Regions from separate parts of the Homo sapiens genome. Here region 1 is linked to region 2. The links come from fine-mapping of genetic effects on plasma protein levels. A gene starts in region 2. The other region holds a variant in brackets. All regions are shown on one strand. Distances are from middle to middle.

Evidence for each region. A credible set is the group of variants that fine-mapping cannot tell apart. PIP is the chance, under the fine-mapping model, that this variant and not a neighbour inherited with it causes the effect. Protein levels are from antibody-based Olink assays in UK Biobank. Linkage for the fine-mapping came from a reference panel and not from the study's own genotypes, which makes the PIPs less certain.
Region 1: its variant is the best candidate, but not a certain one, in a credible set for the plasma level of the MINK1 protein (UK Biobank, PIP 0.68).

What each region holds. Positions count from the first base shown.
Region 1 is chr17:4,870,984-4,879,309 of GRCh38, reverse strand. It overlaps MINK1 (misshapen like kinase 1), which reads right to left. Exons shown (of 32, transcript NM_153827.5): 2 at 928-993. Among named protein-coding and RNA genes, the nearest start is that of C17orf107, 24 kb to the left of the region's middle. The variant A/T (reference allele first, on the strand shown) is at 4,155.
Region 2 is chr17:4,829,009-4,837,334 of GRCh38, reverse strand. MINK1 (misshapen like kinase 1) reads right to left here and starts at 3,995. Exons shown (of 32, transcript NM_153827.5): 1 at 3,695-3,995. The coding sequence starts at 3,751. RefSeq lists silencers at 3,445-3,694, 3,705-4,174 and an enhancer at 4,152-4,938.

The DNA of each region.
Region 1 (8,326 bases), 42 kb before region 2:
GTCAGAGGCAGCATTCACCCTGAGCATCCTCCCTCCCTGCTGGAGCAGCTCCCCCCATCCAAGTGTGAGCAGTGGTCAGGCCACCTCACTCCCTGCTGCAGCGGCTCCCACAATCCAAGTGTCAGCAGTGGTCAGGCCACCTCACTCCCTGCTGCAGCGGCTCCTCCCAATCCAAGTGTCAGCAGTGGTCAGGCCACCTCACTCCCTGCTGCAGCGGCTCCCACAATCCAAGTGTGAGCAGTGGTCAGGCCACCTCACTCCCTGCTGCAGCGGCTCCCACAATCCAAGTGTGAGCAGTGGTCAGGCCACCTTACTCCCCGCTGGAGTGGCTCCCCCCATCCAAGTGTGAGCAGTGTGGTCAGGCCACACGAGAGGGCTGGGCTGGCCAACCTAAAAGCTACCATCAGTGGCTGAGAACCTGCCACTTCTGTCAGGGACAGAGGCAGCTCAAAAGCCAAAAGCCTGAGCTCTGGCCCCAGCAGGCCAGCTGTGGGAGCAGAGGCCACATCCCCTCTGCAGAAGGCCACCCATTAGGTCCCACTACCTCAAAGTCCTGGGTCTCTTTGTGGTCTGGGGAGAGGCCAAACCCACATCTCTGGCCTTAGCTCTCTCTGAATCCCAGGAGAGTTCTGACACACAAGGCCGTATGCCCTTCCACCTGCTCTCACTGCTGCAGGCCACCCTGCCTGGCTGCTGGCCTGTTCCCACCATGTCCGGGACTGGCTCTGCACTCAGGTAGAGAGAGGCATCAACAGTACCTCCTTCTGGGTGCTCTTTCCTCTCCCCCACTCTACCTTTCCAGGGCCCTAGACTCTAGCATCTCCCATAGCCCCCTTCAGACCTGCAGACCAGGAATCTACTTCCTTCCACTCCTCCCAAGACTGCCCTGCAGATGTGGAGGTCATACTTCCACACCATTCGTCTCACCTTGTACACCTGTCCGTAGGTTCCATTGCCGACCACCTCCACAAGCTCAAAGATCCCAGCAGGGTCCTAGGGGCAGGAGACAGAAGAATACTGTGTCAAGACTTTAGAAAAGGATTACAGAGCTAGAGGGGGGTAAAGTGGTATCCAGTCAAGATATGGGAGTGAAGACCAGCATATCAGGAGGGCACGTGGCAGGAACCCTGGTGGCTGGCTGCCCTTTTCCTGGATTGGTTCAGAGTGAATGTTCTACGGGAAAAGTTGGAAGAAGTGAGTGGCCGGGCACGGTGGCTCACGCCTGTAATCCCAGCACTTTGGGAGGCCGAGGCAGGTGGATCACGAGGTCAGGAGATCGAGACCATGCTGGCTAACACGGTGAAACCCCGTCTCTACTAAAAATACAAAAAATTAGCTGGGCGTGGTTGCGGGCGCCTGTAGTCCCAGCTACTTGGGAGGCTGAGGCAGGAGAATGGCGTGAACCTGGGAGGCAGAGCTTGCAGTGAGCTGAGATTGCGCCACTGCACTCCAGCCTGGGCGACAGAGTGAGACTCCGTCTCAAAAAAAAAAAAAAAAAAAGAAGTGAGAGAACATGGAAGTCAGAGCGCAGATGGCTTTTCAAAGACATGTTCCCGATTTCAAACCCACCGAGAAACTGCGTCTGTACCCTCATGTGCAAAATGAGGGTGCCCGAGTACCTTCCTCTGGGGTTGGTACTCACATTTTAAGTGAAGAAATGCCCATCAAATGCTTCAGATGGTTCCTGGCATCAGAGCGTGTGCCCAATAAAAGTTAATGACCATTATTATTATCTTACTTCTTAAAAGCAGGGATGAGGAAAGCTAGCAGGGAGCAGGAATTTCAGGGCCACCATCCTTTTGTCCTTCCCTCTTCCCAGTCCCCCTGAGACTGAGGGCTTCCAGGCCAGGGTTTGAGGCAATTGGGGCCAAAGGGACCTGGACGGAGGGAGTCAGCAGGTGATGGTGAGAAAGGGCCTCTGAGAAGGGAGAACTTTCTGTTCCTACTTTTCTGAGCCAAGCAGTGCCAGAAGGAGACAGCCCGAAGGGCTCAAACAAAGCCTCTAAAGAGGCTCGTCCTCCCCCTGGGCCAAGAGCAGGCAGGCCAGGCCTCAGCAACACAGCTGCGGTCGGGAGGCCACCCACACCCTCCTGGCAGAACCTTTTTTTTTTGAGAGAAAGAAATTGGGAGGTGGAGCTGCAAGCTGAAGAGAGATACAGCCCAGTACTGTCCACACTCCTGCACCTCCTGCAGAATGATGGCTCTTTTTTTTTTTTTTCTTTTGAGACTGAGTCTCACTCTGTCACCCAGGCTGGATGCAGTGGTACAATCACAGCTCACTGCAGCCTCAGTCTCCTGGGCTCAAGCAATCCTCCACCTCAGCCTCCTGAACAGCTGGGACCACAGGCATGCACCACCGCTCCTGGCTAGTTTTTTTTATTTTTAGTAGAGACGGGGTGTCACTATGTTGTCCAGACTGTTCTCAAACTTCTGAGTTCAAGCAGTCCTCCTGCCTTGGCCTCCCAAAGTACTGGGATTACAGGTGTGAGCCACCACGCCTGCCTCAGAGCCGACAGTTCTGACAGTCCTGGTGTTTCACTGGGTGGGCCCGTCCCCACCGCTGCAGGGACCGAGCGGAGGCAGAAAGTGAGGATGGCACTTGGGAATAAACTCTCCAGGCAACACGTGGCCTCTGTGCTGATAATCCTAAAAGCATATAATCTAAAACTCCTTTCTCCTTGATTTTGAAAGCTAACATAGGGTTTCTGGGAGGAAAAAAAAAATCCCACGACCAAAAAAGCCCACATCCATGCCAATAAAAGCACTTCATCCACTGAAGTAATAAGCCCAAGGAAGACGACTTGGGCGTGTTGAAGACCAGAGAGACACCAGCCCAAGGCTTTTAAAAAATGTCCTCACTGTGCACTTTTTCCATTTTCTCAAAGAGGAGCTGGAGAGCGGAGACGTGCCCCGGCACCCTGTGCCTGCCCCATCAGAGCATGTATCACGAGGCATTGTGCTCTACATTTACTTGTCTTATTCACTGGAGAAAGGGACTGAGCCCTCCTTGCTCACCAGGTAATGTCTAGGACCTCACTGAGGCCTGGCACGCGGCAGCCTGAGGAAACAGCCCAGCCTGCTCGGGAGGAAGTATTGACAGCTGAAGGGGGTTCCTTCTCTGTGCTCTGAAGGGGACTGGGCTGACCAGACCAAGAACTTTGTGGGTCTACATTCAATTATTTGGCTTCAGTTAAAGTTACGAAAAAAAAAATCTTGGCCGGGCGCGGTGGCTCACGCCTGTAATCCCAGCACTTTGAGAGGCTGAAGCGGGCAGATCAAGGGGTCAGGGTATCGAGACCATCCTGGCTAACATGGTGAAACCCCGTCTCTACTAAAAATACAAAAAATTAGCTGGGCGTGGTGGCGGGCACCTATATTCACAGCTACTCGGGAGGCTGAGGCAGGAGAATTACTTGAACCCAGGAGGTGGAGGTTGCAGTGAGCCGAGATCACACCACTGCACTCCAACCAAAGCGACAGAGCAAGGCTCTGTCTCGGCGGGGGGAAAAAAAACCTAACAAATTTATTCATTTTTTTTGAAATGGAATTTTTCTCTTGTTGCCCAGCTGGAGTGCAATGGCACGATCTTGGCTCACCGCAACCTCCACCTCCTGGGTTCAAATGATTCTCCTGCCTCAGCCTCCCGAGTAGCTGGGACTACAGGCGTGTGCCACCACGCCCAGCTAATTTTGTATTTTTAGTAGAGACGTGGTTTCACCCTGTTGGTCAGACTGGTCTCAAACTCTTGACCTCAGGTGATCCACCCACCTCAGCCTCCCAAGGTGTTGGGATTACAGGTGTGAGCCACTGCGCACGGCCTCATTTTTGTTTTTTTAGAGTCAGATCTCGCTCTGTTGCCCAGGTGGGAGTGCGGTGGCATGATCACAGCTCACTGTAGCCTTGAACTCCTGGGCTCAAGCAATCCTCCCACCTCAGCCTCCCAACACATTAATATTATAGGCATGACCCAGCATGCACAGCTAAAACAATATTTAACGGGTGTAAATCACAGTAGGATCCACAGGAAAGAGAGGTGTTGTCACTGCAGTGCAGGGGGCTAACAAGAGGTCTTTCTGACCCTGAGAGCTGGAAGGAACCTGAAAAAAGTCATCTCATCCGTCTTCAGTTCTAGATTAGAGGCTCAAAGACCATAG[A/T]GTTCCCTACAGAGCTCCCCAACAGAAGAACTCATCCATTCCGGGGCGTCTGAACTGACTGCTGCGAAGTCCTTTCTTGAATCAAACTGTAGCTCTTTCTGAGAAGGAGGGAGACAGGAAAAAGGATCTAGGGTCATAATTTTCTGAACACTCCTAATCTAAGAGGGAAAATACCGTGGGCCTGTTAGAGCCATAATGATCTGTCACCATCAAGTCAAATCACTACAAGTACATTTTAATTTTGTAACCTTGACTCCCAATCTGTCTCCTTCTCGTGTCTGGGCGGCACTGAGGGAGGAAGGAATATTTGAGGTCAGACACCCTGGGTTCAGATATCGACATTTAATGGGTTTCAAGTCGGTTTCCTGAAAACTCCTACTGGAAAGGGTGATTCAGAGAAGCAAGTTGGGGTCCCGCACGTGGCACTCTGGTTGTGGTCTCTCACCCCCTCCCCACCCAGATGCTCCATGTTTCAATAGCAGCACCGCTTTCCCACCACAGTCCAGCCTCTGCCTAATCCTCCTCCTCCTCCTCCCTTTCCTGTATCGCAGCCACCCTGTCCTTTCTCCCTTCAACATGTGCTTGGCTTGTCCACCAACTCAGACCAATCCCTCATGTCCTCCCTCCTGGAACTCTAGCCTCCCCCATGTCTTCCTTCTGCTGCCACTGATTTAACTCTTCCAAAATGGCGCTTTCCTGATTTTACTCTTCTGCCCAGAACTGGTAGTGGGGCTCCCCAATGCTTAGAGAGTCCCAACACCTCAGCCTGACATTTAACGATGCCCCGTTATTATCCAACCACTAAATATCTTCTGAATGAGTGCCTCCATTTGCCTTGCACTGGGCTAAGCCCTAAGCAGGGAAAACCTGTAAGGCAATCGTATCTCATTTCATTCATCCATTACATATTTCCTGAGCACAAACTATGTAATAACTCCCGAATTAGACACAAAAGGGAGCTCACCAATATATGAGAAATATAAAACCTTATAATTTTATAGATTGGCCAAGTACTCAAATATGAAAATGTGGCAGTCTACGATTATATATCATAAACAGCAACCGAAAGCACGAAAGCCGCTGAAATGCTGCTTGGTGTGGTGGAAAGAGCATGGGAGAGGGGTTTTCAACTCTGGCACTAGTCGTGTGCCTCTGTGCAAGTATTTAACTGTTTGAGGCCTCGGTCCTCTCCCACAAGCTAAGAGGGGGTTGGATTGTGTAAAAAGTCCACCTTAGGGTTGGGCGTGATGGCTCATGTCTGTAATCCCTGCACTTTGGGAAGCTGAGAACGCCGGATCATCAGACGTCAGGAGTTCGAGACCAGCCTGGCCAACATTATGAAGTCCTGTCTCTACTAAAAAATACAAAAATCATCTGGATATGGTGGTGGGCACCTGTAAACCCAGCTACTTGGGAGGCTGAGGCAGGAGAATCGCTTGAACTCAGGAGGTGGAGGTTGCAGTGAGCCGAAATTGCGCCACTGCACTCCAGCCTGGGTGAAAGAGTGAGACGCCTTCTCAAAAAAAAAAAAAAAAAAAGAAAAGAAAAAAGAGTGGCGAAGACCATGCTGTGTTGTGGGAGAGCAGGCTGGGTTTGAATGTTGAATTGGGGATGTTAAAGGATACACAGGTACATTCTATTGTCATGCTGTGCTGTGGGAGAACAGGCTGGGTTTGAATGTTGAATTGGGGATGTTAAAGGATACACAGGTACATTCTATTGTCATGCTGTGCTGTGGGAGAACAGGCTGGGTTTGAATGTTGAATTGGGGATGTTAAAGGATACACAGGTACATTCTATTGTCATGCTGTGCTGTGGGAGAACAGGCTGGGTTTGAATGTTGAATTGGGGATGTTAAAGGATACACAGGTACATTCTATTGTGCAGTTAGAAACAAGGATCTGTAAATACAATTTACAGACATTCGTGAGTGTAAGAGTTGGAGATACAAACAAGATATCTAGGGAGAATGTGGATGGCCAAGGGCAACACGTGAGAGCAGCAGAACAGACGCCAGAAGAGGAGATGGTCATGGAGGCTGCAGGGGGATAAGGGGAGTGATGGCCTCGAATGCGGCAGAGCAGCCAGAGGGCACTGAAAAAAATCCCACTGACTTCAGCAGCTCGGAAACCACTGGGAACTGCCGCTGTGTGAGCAGAGGGCAGACAGCGGGGGCTGGAGGAGACAGGGCTGTGCTGAGGAAATGAGGGCAGCACCCTTTCTGGAGAAGTCTAACCTTGAGAGGAAGGGGGAAAATCAGATGACAGCTAGAGCTGGCAGCAAAGTCAGACAATAGGGTTTTCAAAATAGGGAAGATCGTTCATCATCATGGAGGGGAAGAAGCCAAAAAGGGTGGATGTTTGAGGAGTTGATTTTTCTTTTGTTTCTGAGACAGAGTCTCTGTCACCCAGGCTGGAGTGCAGTGCCACGATCCCAGCTCACTGCAACCTCCGCCTCCTGGGTTCAAGCAATTCTCCTGCTTCAGCCTCCTGAGTAGCTGGGATTACAGGCGCGCACCACCAAACTTGGGTAATTTTTTGTATTTTTAGTAGAGACGGGGTTTTACCATGTTGGTCAAACTGGTCTCAAACTCCTGACCTCGTGATCCACCCACCTCGGCCTCCCAAAGTGCTGGGATTACAGGCGTGAGCCACTGCGCTCAGCCAATTTTTGTACTTTTTATGTAGACGGGGTTTCACCGTGTTGCCCAGGCTGGTCTTGAATCCTGAGCTAAAGAGATCCACCTGCCTTGGCCTCCCAAACTGCTGGGATTACAGGGGTGAGGCACCATGCCTGACTCTGTCCATCCTTTTTTTTTTTTTTTTTAAGACTTAGTCTCATTCTGTTGCTCAGGCTGGAGTGCAGTGGTGCAATCTCAGCTCACTGCAACCTCCACCTCCTGGGTTCAAGTGATTCTCTTGCCTCAGTCTCCTGAATAGCTGGGATTACAGCTGCCTGCCACCACACTTGGCTAATTTTTTGTATTTTAGTAGAGACAGGATTTCACCATGTTGTCCAGGCCAGTGTCAAACTCCTGACCTCAAGTGATCCGCCCACCTCGGCCTCCCAAAGTGCGGGATTACAGGAGTGAGCCACTGTACCCAGCCTGTCCATCCTTTTGATTGGAGCCATCCTAGTAGGTGTGAAGTGGTATCTCATTGTGGTTTTGATTTGTATTTCCCTCAGGAGGCTGAGGCAGGAGGATCCTATAAGTCCAGGAGTTTGAGGCTACAGTGAGCTATGGTCATGCCACTGTACTTCAGCCTGGGCAACAGAGTGAGATCACCTCCCTACCCCATCTAGAAAAGGATGGACAATCAAAAGCGTTGCTGAGGGCATGGAGAAACTGAAATTGTCATACACTGCTGCTGGGAATGTAAAATGGTCCAGCCACTTTGGAAAACAGTTTGGCAGTTCCTCAAATGTTAAACAATGAGTTATCATATCACTCAGCCATTCCACTTCTAGGTAGATACTCAAGAAAACTGAGAACATATATCCACACAAAAATATGTAGATGGATGCCCACAGGAGGATTATTAACAACCAAAAAGTAGAAACCACCCAAATATCCATCAACTGATGAACAGATAAATGTGGTATATCTATATAATAGAATGATATTGGCAATAAAAAGAAATGAAGACCAGGTATGGTGGCTCATGTCTATAACCCCAGCACTTTGGGAGGCAGAGGCGGGAGGATCACTTGAGGTCAAGTGGTTTGAGACTGCTTGGCAGGTTTGAGACCAACCTTGGCAAGATAATAAGACCACATCTCTACAAAAAATTTAAAAAATTAGTGAGGCAAGGTGGCATGTACCTGTAGTCCCAGCTACATGGGAGGCTGAGGTGGAAGGATCCCTTGAGCCCAGGAGCGGAAGGCAGTAGTGACCTATGATAGCACCACTGCACCCCAGCCTGGGTGACAGAGTGAGTGAGACCCTGCCTCTAAAAAAAAAAAAAAAAAAAAAATTAAAACAAACAAAACAAAAAAAGGGAATAAACTACTGCTAGATGTTGCAACATGGATGAACCTTGAAGACATTATGCTTATGAAAGAAGCTAGTCACAAAAGGCCACATATTATGTGGCTACATTTATGTGTAACGTCCAGAATAGGCAAGTCTAAAGAGATGAGAAGTAGATTAGTGGTTGCCAGGGGCTGGGAGG
Region 2 (8,326 bases):
ACGTGTTGTAAGAGGCACTTCTGCAACAAACGTTTGAGCCCCCATTATGTGCAAAACATGCTTACAGGCACTGGGGATACAAAAATGAACAAAACAGCCAAAATCTTAGCTTTCACCGAACTGTTTGTTGTAGTTGTTGTTGTTGTTTGAAACAGAGTCTGGCTTTGTCGCCCAAGCTGGAGTGCAGTGGTGCAATCTTGGCTCACTGCAGCCTCCACCTCCAAGGTTCAAGTGATTCTCCTGCCTCAGCCTCCCGAGTAACTGGGATTACAGGTGTGCGCCACCATGCCTGGCTAATTTTTTTGTATTTTTTTTTTAGTAGAGATGGGGTTTTACCATGTTGGCCAGGCTGGTCTCGAACTTCTGACCTCTCAGGTGATCCATCTGCCTCGGCCTCCCAAAGTGCTGGGATTACGGTCGTGAGCTACCACACCCGGCCACTGAACTGACATTTTAGTGGGGCTGACAGGAATATATATGTCAGCTGGTGATAAATACTATGAGGAAGGATAAAGCAGACTAAGGGAATGCTATATAAAATTTTGTATAAAAATAAAGCAGAGGAGGGAGTGCTATTTTAGATAAAGTTGTCCTGGAAGGCTTCTCTGATTGCCATTTGATAAAAATAACTGCAAAAAGGGCTATCACATATATGATCACTGTGTGCTGGGAACTGTACTATGTACTTAACGTGCATTTAATCCTCAGCAACTCTGCATTCAGTACTATTACCATGCCCACGATACAGGACTGAATGAAGCTTAGAGAGGGTAAGGCTCTTGGCAGAATCTGCAGTAAGGGGAGCAGGGCCAGGGTTACATTGTAAGGGAAGAAACTAGGACTTGAACTCAGGGCTGCAACTTCAAACCACATGCTTTTCCTCACCACGCTGCAGCCAGGCTGGTGGAGAAAAGGAACCTCAAAGAGGTCAAGTGTGGCTGTGGCTACAAAGTAGCAGGTCCATCTGGCCTCCCCACACATGGCTAAGAGATTAACGCAATTCAATCTTCCCTAATATCAGACGATTACCCTCATCACCAGCTGAAAACCAAGCCTTATCTTGAAACAAGAGGAGAAATACACCTTGGGCTCCTTAAGGCCAGCAAATAAATACTGAATATGTTCCTCTCCCATCCCTCTCCCCAGCCCCCAACACAAGATGGTGTAGTAAAGGGAGACACCATTTCTCACTGGAAAACAGACAGGAATAGCACAAGAGATGACCACACTAGCTGCTTGACAGTGCCACAGCTCTCTGAGGTGGAGTCAGGGGGACAGGCACTGAGAAAAGGTCTGCAGCAGGGAGAAGGTAGGCCCTGGCTAGCCCCATGTCAAAGGAGGTACAGCCCTCCCTCAAGCCCTTGCATTTTAGGGTGGAAAGGGGGAAGCAGAATGCTTTCTTAAGCAGCTTAAGGCAGGCCAGACAGAAGCACTGGGAGCAGGTCACCCGGTCTCCTGAGGGGAGAGGAGAGTAAGGCTGGAGGCAACTGAGGAAGGCTAACATTGCTTCAAGCCGAGAAGTCCAGAAGGGAAATACCACATCTAAGGTCAGAGGGTATTTGTGGAATTGCTGGAAATCCCAGGTTGAGGGTCCAGGCCAAACTACCAAAAGAGGCTAAAAGAGAAACCCAAGCAGAGTCCCACAAGGTTCAAAGCAAAGGTTGTGGTTTGGACCCGCCCCGTTTTTTTGTTTTGTTTTGTTTTGTTTAAGACAAGGTCTCGCTTTGTCGCCCAAGCTGGAGTGCAGTGGTGCAATCTTGGCTCACTGCAACCTCCACCTCCCCAGTTCAAGCAGTTCTCCTGCCTCAGCCTCCTGAGTAGCTGGGATCACAGGTGTGTGCCACCACGTGTGGCTAATTTTTGTATTTTTAGTAAGGATGGGGTTTCACAGTGTTGGCCAGGCTGGTCCCGAACTCCTGACCTCAGGTGATGCCCCACCTCGGCCTCCCAAAGTGCTGGGATTACAGGTGTGAGCACCTCGCCCGGCCTGACCCACCCATTTTTTATTGTATTTTAGTCACCCCAGCCACAGGAACCTGTAGCCAGTTAATCAATAACCAAGGTAGGAAGGAAAGGTGGAAGTTCATCCCAGAATGGAGCACATTAAGGGACTTTTACTCAGAATCTGGATTTCCATCTTATATCCCGACTTGGGCATCCCAGTTTAAACCCTGGCCAAGCTGACCTTAAGAATCTCCCTCCTAAAGCCTTCAGACCCTCTCCTCATCAACACACACACATGTGCCTGCGCACACAGAGAAATTCAGCGTTCAGTCCCTCTCCCCAGAAATTTATCACGTTATCTCCAGCAAGTCAGGTCTCATAGCCCAACATTGCACCAAACAAATTATGACCTGAAAATGGGAAGAAAAAAAACTGTGTCACCTAGAGAAACCCAATTAACAACATGACTCTGCTCTCTTCAATTCCCCTCTCCCCTCCAGCCATATCCGGGGCACCTGTGTGGCTGACCGCCTTTTCCCACTACTGGCCATGTTCCCTGGCTGACTCAAAAGCCAGAAGACAGTCTGAGCAGGGGCCTCCAGAGAAGCGAACCTAGAGATGGGAAGTCCTGCTCTCCCCACACCTTGGCCTGGTGAGAGCGCTGGAAGGGCACAGGATCAAAACACCACCTGGCTGATAGTCTGGAGTGTTCACCTTGAAATCACTAAGTTGCCCCTTAAGCCAAAGCTCCCTGCCGAAGAAAAACATAAATGCTACAGAAAGCTCTTCCACCAGAGTGTGTAAGTGCCCCACAAGGGACAATGAACGGGTATTTCCAAGAAATTCCTGCAGCATTTGCTTCCTCTCAACCCCTTTCCTTATTAGCCCCTACCTTGAGAGGTCTCCATTGCTTCCAGCCTTTAGCTAACATAAACACCCACTGCCTTTCCAAACCTTCAGCCTGACCACATGTAGCATGTGTCGTGTGTGCGCGTGTGTGTGTGTGTAAACATCCTCTTCCCAGCCCGTGCTACAGTTTCCAAAGAGAAGAAATGCCTCCCCTCCTCCCCGAGGGCTCCCAGCCCCACGCTGCTGCAGAGTTGGTCATGTAATATTCAGGGACCCTGAGACCGGAAATGCCTGGTTCTGAACTGCTGCACTTGAAACAGGAGAGAAGGGATAGGGAAAACTGAACATGGGATTGAGGGTGACGGCACGAGGGGTGGGGTAGCTGAAATTCCGACCAGGGAAAGGATGCAATTCAAGGGTGGGCGAGGCAGAGAAAGAGGGATGAGAGAGAGGCTGTCGAGACAGTTGCAAAGTCAAAATTCCAGGAGCTGAGGAAGAGGAGGGGAAGGAAGAAGATAGAAGTAAGGGCAAAGGTGGAAAAGGGCCGAAAGGAGGTAAGGAACCACAATAAAGGTTCTCCAGGTGATGGGGGAGGCTAAGTTTAGGCGAACCAGTGGGTCCCGAACCCCAGAGTAAAGGTAGGGTGGCACGGAAGTGTGGGGGCGGGGCACCACAGGGTGGGGACCGAACTGGCTCCCAGCATCTGCAGCCAGTGGAGAGAGAAGGGAGCAGAGGGCGGGGGCCCAGCCGCGGCGGGAGTCCGGGAAAGGGGCACGGGTCGCCAAGGGGACCCAAGCTGGTGGAGGGGGCGCCCGGGAGCACGTGAGGCGTGCAGCCACCCCGCTCCCTCCCCTGCGGCGGGGACAGGAACCAGGGCGAGGCTGGGGGACGGCGCGCTCACCCGCAGGGCGGACAGGTCGATGTCGTCCAGGCTGCGGGCGGGGGCTGGGTCGCCCATGGCCTCCGTGGGGAACGGGGCACCGGGGCCGCTCACGCTCCGGCTCGGTTACTCCACTGCCGCCGTCGCCGCTTCTCCCCCATCGGAGAACCCCGGGGGCGGACTCCACCGCGCCTCCCCCGGAGACCGGGGAGGGGGAGGGCCGGCGCGAGGACCGACCCACCGACTGACAGGCGCTATCTCCCCGGAGCCAGCCACCCGAGCCTACCACCTCTCCTGCGCAGGCGCGGAGCGACCGCGCACTGGGAGGGTGGAAGCGCGAGCGTGACGCGAGCGCGCCGGGGCCCCCTCCCCCTAGGCGCCGACACCTGCGCGCAGGCGCAGGCGAGCAGGCGAAAGGCGCGCGCGAGGACGGAGCGACCGCGCGAGCCTGGCGTGAAAGAAGTGGGCGGCGGCCGAGGCGGCCGCGGAGCGCGCCCACCAGCTGGTGCGCGTGCGCACACGCGTTTCCTTTTCTTTCCCTATTTTTTTTGCCCTTTCTCTCCCTTATTTCCTTCTCAGATCTCCTTTGACGCCTTTCCTTCCCTTTCCCTCCTTCTTTCGTGTGCCCAGCTGCCAATCAAGCCACCCACCTTTCCATTTGCGGGGGAAGGGGGCGGTACCCAACCCCCTCTATTACTAGGGGGTTGTTATGGTAACTCCCCACGCGAGGGCTGGGTGGCCTCTAGATAGGACGGGCTGTCCACCCACCCAATTGCTATGGCAACAGTGGAGCCGCTGAGGGAGGGGCCACTCCGTGAGAACTTGGCTGGAGAAACCACGTGGGAGTTGGGGGGCAGAGGAGGGGCACCGGCTGCCTCAGGAATGCCCTTTCCACCCTCACCTAGCAGGTTGGGGAAGCATCGAGGTGCTCTCAGATCTCAGGATAAGGAATCCTACCGCAGACGTGTATCTCTGCACCTCTTTTAACAAAGTGTTCTGCACAAAGGAACTGTTTCCACAATTATTCATTGATCACTGGAGTCGCGCGTGGAGGAAGGGGTGGCGAAGGGGAAGAGAGGGAATCTGCGTTCAGTCCCTTAAAATATAGCTTGGGTCACCTTAGATCTAGTCATGTTGGCATAGCGCCTACAGCCATTAGCCTCAGTGGAGGCTGGGTAATGCTATCTAAGAACCACGAGTCATGTTCTACCACTGAAATGCTGTGTGACCTTGAGCAAGTTGCTTTGCTTCTCTGAGGTTTTCTTTCACTGTGAAATTGAGGGGGGAGGCTGTATGATCCTCAAGAGCTCTTCTAGCACCAACACTGCCTCTGAAAGACTCCACCACCAGCCTTAATATAAACATCATTTAAGAGAGTTTAATTTAGAAGTCCTTGAAAAATAGCTGAACACATTCCTTTCTGGACCGTTTTTAGCATTTGGGTGCACAGCCAGTCGGCCCCCTTCCCTAACCCCTAGCCCATTTTCCTTGCCACTGCCCTTATTCAAGCCGCTATCCCCATTCATCTCCTATTTGGCCTTCCGGCCTGACTCCTTCAAGTCAATTCTATTTTTTTTTTTTTTTTTTTTTTTTTGAGACAGAGTCTCACTCTGTCGCCCAGGCTGGAGTGCAGTGGTGCGATCTTAGCTCACTGCAAGCTCCGCTTTCCGGGTTCATGCCATTCTCCTGCCTCAGCCTCCTGAGTAGCTGGGACTACAGGCGCCCGCCACCTCGCCCGGCTAATTTTTTGTATTTTTAGTGGAGACGGGGTTTCACCATGTTAGCCAGGATGGTCTCGATCTCATGACCTCGTGATCCGCCCGCCTCGGCCTCCCAAAGTGCTGGGATTACAGGCGTCAGCCACTGTGCCCAGCCTCTATTTTTTTTTTTTTAAAGACAAAGTCTCGCTCTGTCACCCAGGCTGGAGTACAATGGTATGATCTCTGCTCACTGCAACCTCAAGCTTCTGGGCTCAAGCTATCCTCCAACCTCAGCCTCCCAAGTAGCCAGGACTACAGGCAGCGCATGCCACTACACCTGGCTGATTTTTATATGTTTTGTAGAGATGGGGCTTTGCCATGTCGCCCAATCTGGTCTCAAACCCCTGGCCTCAAGTGATCTGCCTGCCTCGGCCTCCCAAAATGCGGAGATTACAGGATCCCTTGAGGACAGGAGTTGGAGGCCAGCCTGGCCAACATGGTGGGGTTTTTTGTTTGTTTTTTTTTTTTTTTTTTTTTTTTTAGACAGTTTTAGTTTAGTTTAGTTTTTTTGTGAATTTGTGAATTTGTTTTTATTGGGGAACAGGACACAGGGTGGAAAATGTCACCTTGGTGGAGACAGAGTTTTGTTCTCGTTGCCCAGGCTGGAGTGCAGTGGCACAATCTTGGCTCACTGCAACCTCCGCCTCCCGGGTTCAAGCAATTCTCCTATCTCAGCCTCCTGAGTAGCTGGGATTACAGGTGCACGCCACCACGCGTAGCTAATTTTTTGTATTTTCAGTTGAGACGGGGTTTCATCATGTTGGCCAGGCTGGTCTCGAACTCCTGGTCTCAGGTGATCCACCTGCATTGGCCTCCCAAAGTGCAGGGATTACAGGCGTGAACCACCACAACCGGCCAAGCCTCGCAGACATAGTGAAACTCTGTCTCTATTAAAAATACAAAAAATTGGCCGGGCACGGTGGCTTGCGCCTGTAATCCCAGCACTTTTGGGGAGGCCGAGACGAGTGGATCACCTGAGGTCAGGAGTTTGAGACCAGCCTGGACAACATGGTGAAACCATGTCTCTACTAAAAATACAAAAATTAGCCGGGCATGGTGGCAGGCGCCTGTAATCCCAGCTATTCGGGATGCCGATGCAGAAGAATCGCTTGAACCCGGGAGGCAGAGGTTGCAGTGAGCCGAGAACGTGCCACTGCACTCCAGCCTGGGTGACAGAGCAAGACAACGTCTCAAAAAAAAAAAAAAAAAAAAAGCCGGGTGCAGTGGCTCACGCCTGTAATCCCAGCACTTTTGGGGAGGCCGAGACGAGTGGATCACCTGAGGTCAGGAGTTTGAGACCAGCCTGGACAACATGGTGAAACCATGTCTCTACTAAAAATACAAAAATTAGCCGGGCATGGTGGCAGGCGCCTGTAATCCCAGCTATTCGGGATGCCGATGCAGAAGAATCGCTTGAACCCGGGAGGCAGAGGTTGCAGTGAGCCGAGAACGTGCCACTGCACTCCAGCCTGGGTGACAGAGCAAGACAACGTCTCAAAAAAAAAAAAAAAAAAAAAGCCGGGTGCAGTGGCTCACGCCTGTAATCCCAGCACTTTGGGAGGCTGAGGCGGGAGGATCACGAGGTCAGGAGATCAAGACCATCCTGGCTAACACGGTGAAACCCCGTCTCTACCAAAAATACAAAAAAAAATTAGCCGGGCGTGGTGGTGGGCGCCTGTAGTCCCAGCTACTCCGGAGGCTGAGGCAGGAGAATGGTGTGAACCCCGGAGGCGGAGCTTGCAGTGAGCCGAGGTCGTGCCACTGCACTCCAGCCTGGGCGACAGAGCAAGACTCCGTCTCAAAAAAAAAAAAAAAAAAAATTGGCCGGGCGTGGTGGCTCATGCCTGCAATCCCAGCACTTGGGGAAGCCAAGGCAGGCGACTGCACTCCAGCCTGGGCAACAGCGCGAGACTCTGTCTCAAAAAAAAAAAAAAAAAAAAAAGGCCAGGCACGGTGGCTCACGCCTGTAATCCCAGCACTTTGGGAGGCCAAGGCAGGTGGATCACGAGGTCAAGAGATCGAGACCATCCTGACAAACATGGAGAAACCCCGTCTCTACTAAAAATACAAAATTGGCCGTGTGTGGTGGCGCATGCCTGTAATCCCAGCTACTTAGGAGGCCGGGGCAGGAGAATCTCTTGAATCTGGGAGGCGGAGGTTGTGGTGAGCCGAGATCATGCCATTGCACTCCAGCTTGGGCAACAAGAGCGAAACTCCATCTCAAAACAAAACAAAAACCAGATTGGCTGGGCATGGTGGCTCACACCTGTAATCCCCGCACTTTGGGAGGCTGAGGCAGGTGGATCACCTGAGATTGGGAGTTCGAGACCAGCCTGGCCAACATGGTGAAATGCCGTCTCTACTAAAAATACAAAAAATTAGCCGGGCGTGGTGGGGTGTGCCTATAATCCCAGCTACTTGGGAGGCTGAGGCAAGAGGATTGCTTGAACCCAGGAGGCAGAGGTTGCAGTGAGCTGAGATTGCACCACTGCACTCCCGCCTGGGTGACAGCGTGAGACTCTGTCTCATAAAAAAAAAAAAAAAAAAAAAAAAAAAAAAGGCAAAGTGTGGCATCAAAGACCCTTCAAGATTCTGCTGGCTTTTCTTGCCTTCTTTTTCTTTGTTAACGGTTTGCTTCTTTAGGAGTTGGGGTCTTGCTCTATCACCCAGGCTAGAGTGTAGTGGCACGATCATGGCTTACGGCAGCCTCCAACTCCTGGGCTCAAGTGTTAATCCTGCCTCAGGCTCTTGAGTTGCTGGGATTATAGGCATGAACCACCCTGCTCAGTGCCTGCCTTACTTTTCAATACTCAACTATTAGACCTCACATTTTCCAGCCATACTGAAATACTCTACTCACTTCCCAGAACTCAACTTTCTCTCCCCCAACCTT